Homo sapiens: one gene and its partner. The protein of the gene in region 1 purifies or fractionates together with the protein of each later gene. This does not show direct contact. Each region holds a gene or a part of one and is shown on either strand. Other genes may lie near its edges.

What was found. Proteins that work in one complex are often made in the same cells at the same time.
Region 2: the proteins of DDX27 (region 1) and DCAF13 fractionate together in Homo sapiens (co-fractionation; one large-scale study listed by BioGRID). This does not show direct contact.

Annotation. Positions count from the first base shown.
Region 1 is NC_000020.11:49,239,775-49,243,432, forward strand, and holds part of DDX27 (probable ATP-dependent RNA helicase DDX27), read left to right. Parts: intron 1-2,118; coding exon 2,119-2,213; intron 2,214-2,308; coding exon 2,309-2,432; intron 2,433-2,819; coding exon 2,820-2,907; intron 2,908-3,658. UniProt on the Homo sapiens protein: Probable ATP-dependent RNA helicase. Component of the nucleolar ribosomal RNA (rRNA) processing machinery that regulates 3' end formation of ribosomal 47S rRNA.
Region 2 is NC_000008.11:103,439,246-103,441,687, forward strand, and holds part of DCAF13 (DDB1- and CUL4-associated factor 13), read left to right. Parts: intron 1-890; coding exon 891-1,026; intron 1,027-2,209; coding exon 2,210-2,373; intron 2,374-2,442. UniProt on the Homo sapiens protein: Part of the small subunit (SSU) processome, first precursor of the small eukaryotic ribosomal subunit.

The sequences.
Region 1 (3,658 bases):
TTTGAATTACTGTTCATAATAGCAAAAAGGTGGAAACAAACTATGTTCATCAACAAGTGAATGGATAAACAAAATTTGGGGTGTGTGTTTATATACACACAATGGAATATTATTCAGCCATGAAGTTCTGATACATGCCATAAGGATGAACCTTGAAAATCTTAAGCTGAATGAAATAATCCAGACACAAAGGGACAAATACTGTCTGATTTCACTTACCTGAGATATCTAGCTAGGCAAATTCACAGAGACAGAAATAGATTATAGATTACTTAGGGCTAGGGGAAGGGGGGTTATAGGAAATTATTAGTGGTTGCAGAGCTTCTGTTTTCAATGATGTCAGTGAGTAGCCTCCTGATAGGAGTTTTGGAAACAGATAGTGGTGATGGTTGTACAATGTTGTGAATGTAAGTAATGCCACTGAATTGTATACTTAAGATTGGGTAAAATGGCAGCCTTTGTTTTATATGTGTATATATAACCACAATAAAAATAATTTTAAAAAAGTTAGGAGATATTTAATACAGATTTCCTCTCCATCTCCCTTTAAAAAAGACCCAAAACACTTATAAGTTCACATTGTTCTATGCCTCGCCTTTTCACTTAATTTTGAAGCTTAGAGATATGTTTTATATAGGCCCACATATGCTGCCCTTTTTGTTTTTTGTTTTCAGACGGAGTCTTGCTCTGTCACTGAGGCTGGAGTGCAGTGGCGCAATCTCGGCTCACTGCAAGCTCTGCCTCCTGGGTTCACCCCATTCTCCTGCCTCAGCCTCCTGAGTAGCTGGGACTACAGGTGCCTGCCACCGCACCTGGGTAATTTTTTGTATTTTTAGTAGAGATGGGATTTCACCGTGTTAGCCAGGATGGTCTCGATCTCCTGACCTCGTGATCCGCCTGCCTTGGCCTCCCAAAGTGCTGGGATTACAGGTGTGAGCCACTGCACTCGGCCCCCTTTTTGTTTTTTTTAATGGCTTCATGTTCTTCCATCATATGAGTAGATTGTTGAGGGACATTGAGGTTGTTTACAATCATTTGTCATCCAGCCTGGGCAGCATGGCAAAACCCCATCTCTACTAAAAATCAAAAAATTAGCCAGACATGGTGGTGCATGCCTATAGTCCAACTACTTGAGAGGCTGAGGTAGGAGGATCACCTGAGCCTGGGGAGGTCAAGGTTGCAGTGAGCTAAGATTCTGCCACTGAACTGCAGCCTGGGCGGCAGAATGAGACCCCGACTCAAACCACCACCACCAACAACAAAAAACCCAAAAAATAATCATTTGTCATTACAAACAAGTGATGTAGGGAATAACCTTGCACATATGCCCTTTTACAATTAAGCAAGTGTATATTTGGCTTGCAGGATTAATTCCTAAAAGTGGAATAGTGGGTCAGAGGATATTTGTATTTCTAGTTTTGTTAGAGGTTGCAAAATTTCCCTCCTAGAGGGTATACCAGCAGTTTTAGAAATGCTGTCTATATTTGATGGGACAAAATAAGGGTGTATATAACTTAAATTTCTGATAAAAATAGAGTTATAACTGTATTGGTGGGTAAAGTAGTAAAGTGACCTAAATCTTCATCCTTCATAGCAGGAGGTTTGTAATGAGTATCTTAAGTGGATTGAGAAATAGTCAAAAAAGCATGTTATTTAGTGAGATGGAGGTAATCAGTGGAAGAAGTGCTTGCGGCTTTTCTTTTCTTTTTTTTTTTTGAGGCAGGGTCTCGCTCTGTCGCCCAGGCTGGAGTGCAGTGGCGCGATCTCAGCTCACTGCAGCCTCCCCTTCCTAAGTTCAAGCAATTCTCTCACCTCAGCCTCCCAAGTAGCTGGGATTACAGGTGCACCACCATGCCCAGCTAATTTTTGTATTTTTAGTAGTCGGGGTTTCACCATGTTGGCCATGCTGATCCCAAACTCCTGACCTCAGGTGATCCACCCACCTCAGCCTCCCAAAGTGCTGAGACTACAGGCACGAGCTACTGCACTCGGCCAAGAAGTGCTTGCCGCTTTTCATTTTAATCTGCTAACTTACCAATTGAAAACGTGCACTTCTTATCGTAAGCTTAAAAAAAGATAAAATCATCCCTGAAATCTTATGCTTTCTTCTCATCCCAGTTGCCAAAGCTCTGCAGGAATTTGACTTGGCCTTAAGAGGAAAGAAGAAAAGGAAGAAGTTTATGAAGGATGCCAAAAAAAAGGGGGAGATGACAGTGAGTGGCCTCCCTTTTGGAGTTTGGGCCCACTCGGTGGGGTGGGTCAGAGTGGCCTGGTGTGTTCCACACTCACACCTCCCCACTCCCCCTAGGCAGAGGAAAGGTCTCAGTTTGAAATCCTCAAGGCGCAGATGTTTGCTGAACGGCTAGCGAAGAGGAATCGCAGAGCCAAGCGGGCCCGAGCAATGCCCGAGGAGGAGCCAGTGAGAGGTCCTGGTAGGTGAATGGGGAGCCCAAAGGAGCTTGTACAAGGTTTTCCCTGAAACCTGTGCTTTGGGTCAGGGAGAAAATCTGAGGGATGATGACAGTAGCCCACATTATTTGAGTAATTAGTATGTACCAATGTGTACAGCTATCCCTCCACGGTCTAAGGGGCGCAGTGACCTTGTGGTTGTTGAGAACTAGGATTTGAACGCCAGCTTTTCTGACTCCGGAGCCTAAGGCCTCACCAGCTGCTACTTGGAGGAGCTGGTGAGGACAGAATGAAAATAGTCTTTGGATGCCAGAGTATCCACTGAACTTGGAATCATTACCTTGAACTTAAGGGGATTTAGGAGCTTGGGCCAAAGACAACCATATGTAACCCATTCTCTCTGTGCACAGCCAAGAAGCAAAAGCAGGGGAAGAAATCTGTATTTGATGAAGAACTCACCAACACAAGCAAGAAGGCCCTGAAACAGTATCGAGCTGGGTAGGATTTTAAGTCATCATGGAGCCCTTGGTATTCTTTTTTTTTTTTTTTTTTTTTTTGAGACGGAGTCTCGCTCTGTCGCCCAGGGTGGAGTGCAGTGGTGCATCTTAGCTCACTGCAAGCTCCACCTCCTGGGTTCAAGCAATTCTCCTGCCTCAGTCTCCCAAGAAGCTGGGACTATAGGCGCACGCCACCATGCCCAACTAATTTTTGTATTTTTAGTAGAGATGGGGTTTCACCATGTTTGCCAGGATGGTCTCGATCTCTTGACCTCCTGATCCACCCGCCTCAGCCTCCCAAAGTGCTGGGATTACAGGCTTGAGCCACCGTGCCCGGCGAGCCCTTGGTATTCTAATGGAAGCTATGAGTCTTCTGCCTCCTTCCCCATTTCCAGTTTTTGCACACCTATAGCTTTATACTATGTAAATTCAAGGGTACCTGTCTGTTCTCCACCCCCCACCCCTCTCAGAGCCACCTGAGGATCCCAAGGTGAGAACAGGAGAGGGGTGTTCAGTTAGCACTGTTCCTGCCTTGGAGGTGAAATAGTACATTGTTGGGTTCAGAAATGGAGCTTTCCTTCAGGGGAGTGATAACTCTTTCATCTCAAGTTCCATCCTGCAGAACCCCAGAGAATCCTGGCTTGCTCTTAGGAATATGTTGTCCCACACCATTTTCCCCAGCCCAAGGTTGGGGCAGGGGCAGACTAAGCTTCCCAAGTAGTGGTATATACCTAAGAAGGGCCTCTTCCAAC
Region 2 (2,442 bases), on another chromosome or scaffold:
CTCCCAAAGTGCTGGGATTACAGGTGTGAGCCACCGCACCTGGCTCTATTAAATTATTCTTACCTCAACTTATCAGACACTTCTGTAGTCCTCCCTTCCTTTTCACACATGTAAATCATCAACTCACTTTAATTAAGCTTTTTTTTTTTTTTTTTTTTTTTGAGGCAGAGTCTCACTCTGTCACCCACGCTGGAGTACAGTGGCACAATCTTGGCTCACTACAATCTCTGCCTCCCAGGTTCAAGTGATTCTCCTGCCTCAGCCTCCCTAGTAACTGGGATTACAGGTGTGTGCCACCACGCCCAACTAACTTTTGTAATTTTAGTAGAGACAAGGTTTCACCATGTTGGGCAGGCTGGTCTAATTAATTAAGCTTTTTAAACAATTTAACCAAAACAAAATTCTGGCATTAGATTCAGCATATCAGGAGGTACTCTTTGAAGACCATTGCATTTCTTTCTTTTTCAGTAAAATGAAGGGGAAAAAAAGTGTGTTGACCTGAATTGATTTGATATGGGGAAGAGGCCTTTTAAGATCAAGTCCTTTCTTTTTGTTACAAAGTTACCTTGGTTGAACATCATATTTTATTTGCATTTTATGCTTTTAGTTATTCTGTGAACTTTTCTGTACATCTGGTTTTGCTTAGTTTGTTCATATTTATTTCTCTTACTAGATAGTAAGTTCTCTGAGAGCAGAAATTTGTTTACTACCCCAGCACTTAACACGGAACCTTATTAGTTGGGTTCAATAAAAATACATTGACAAGAATTTGAGTTTTTATTTTATACTCCTATAGGACTCAGAAATAGTATCCTGATACTTAATAGGCAGTGGTTACTCAAAATCTGTACCAAAATCCAAAGGGTTTTAACTTAATTCGTTTTCTATAGGGAGGTATATCATACAAAGAGAATGCAACATGTTATCTGTGTAAAATGGACTTCTGACAGCAAGTATATTATGTGTGGATCTGATGAAATGAACATTCGCCTGTGGAAAGCTAATGCTTCTGAAAAATTGGGTGTGGTAAGAGAATTCATTTTCTTTCATTGTCATAAAGCTGATTTCTAATTTTATTAGATATTACATTATGAAAATTTACTTTTAGGTATTTTTGGGTATTTTGATTAAATTGACATAGCTGTGATAAAAAAAGCAATAAATGGACAAGGTTGTATTGATAATTATTTGCTTCATTCTGATCTATTATTGTAGACACTGTACATTCAAATTGACATTTAAGACCTTCAGAATGCCTTTGTTAATTCAGATGTTTGATAATATTGAGTCTTACTGGTTTTTTGTGTTTTCCTTGAGGTAGGGACAGAAGATGCAGGAACTAGAGGCTCAGAACTTAGAGCTCGTATCTCTTGTTAGAGAAATAGTCATCCAGCAACTCAAAGGCTGCAAGTCCCTGGGAGATCTTGTAATATCAAAGACACAATGGAACATTTAATAAATACAGAAAGCTTCATACTTTAAAAAAGATTCCATGAAAAAATAGCAGGTGTTATCATTGGCTGGTTACCTCCAGGATAGGGGATTATGGTTGATTTTGTTTTGTTCTTGATGTTTTTCTAAATGTCCCATATTTTCTATAAGAAACAGAGTGTTTATATTAGAAATAAATATTAAGTTTAAGAAGGAAAGGGTAAGTGTGAATTATTTTCTACTTAGTCCTGATAGGAAAATCAAAGGCAATTCTGTTTTAGGTTTAATGATTGATAAGTATTGCATTGTGCCTAGGTCCATCATTAAATGTTCCTCTAAATCGTATCATCCTTAACATTCGTTAAACAAAGGGTAGTTCTTATGGAATTGGATACTTATTTTTTCTTTGCTGTTTCACTATGTTTAACTCACCTCTTTACCCACCCCCAAAATTTGAGTGAGTGATTTAGGTGCTTTTCTATGTTATTGATGCCTAGGGAAGGTCCAACTCAGTGATCCACGTGGCCCTACTCCTTCAGCACTGCTGCTTTCTACTGGGTGGCATCTATCTACATGGCGAGTGTGTTGCCTAAAAGGAAATTCAGTGCTTGCAGAGCTAGTGTTACTAATATAACCTTGTAAAGTGCAGAATTACATTGGCAATTTTGGTTGCATATCATAAAAGATTAGGTTAGGGGGAAAAGGGTGCTTTCTAGCTTTTTTATACTGAAGCAAAACAACACACTATTCATTAAGATACCAAAATGTGTATTTTCAGCTTACATCACGAGAAAAAGCAGCCAAGGATTATAACCAGAAATTGAAGGAGAAATTTCAGCATTATCCTCATATAAAACGTATAGCTCGTCATCGACATCTACCAAAATCTATCTATAGCCAGATTCAGGAACAGCGCATCATGAAAGAAGCTCGTCGACGAAAGTATGTTTTGAGGCATTTGACTCTATTACCCTTTTCTGACTTCTGCTCTCATCTCACCAAAAACAAAGT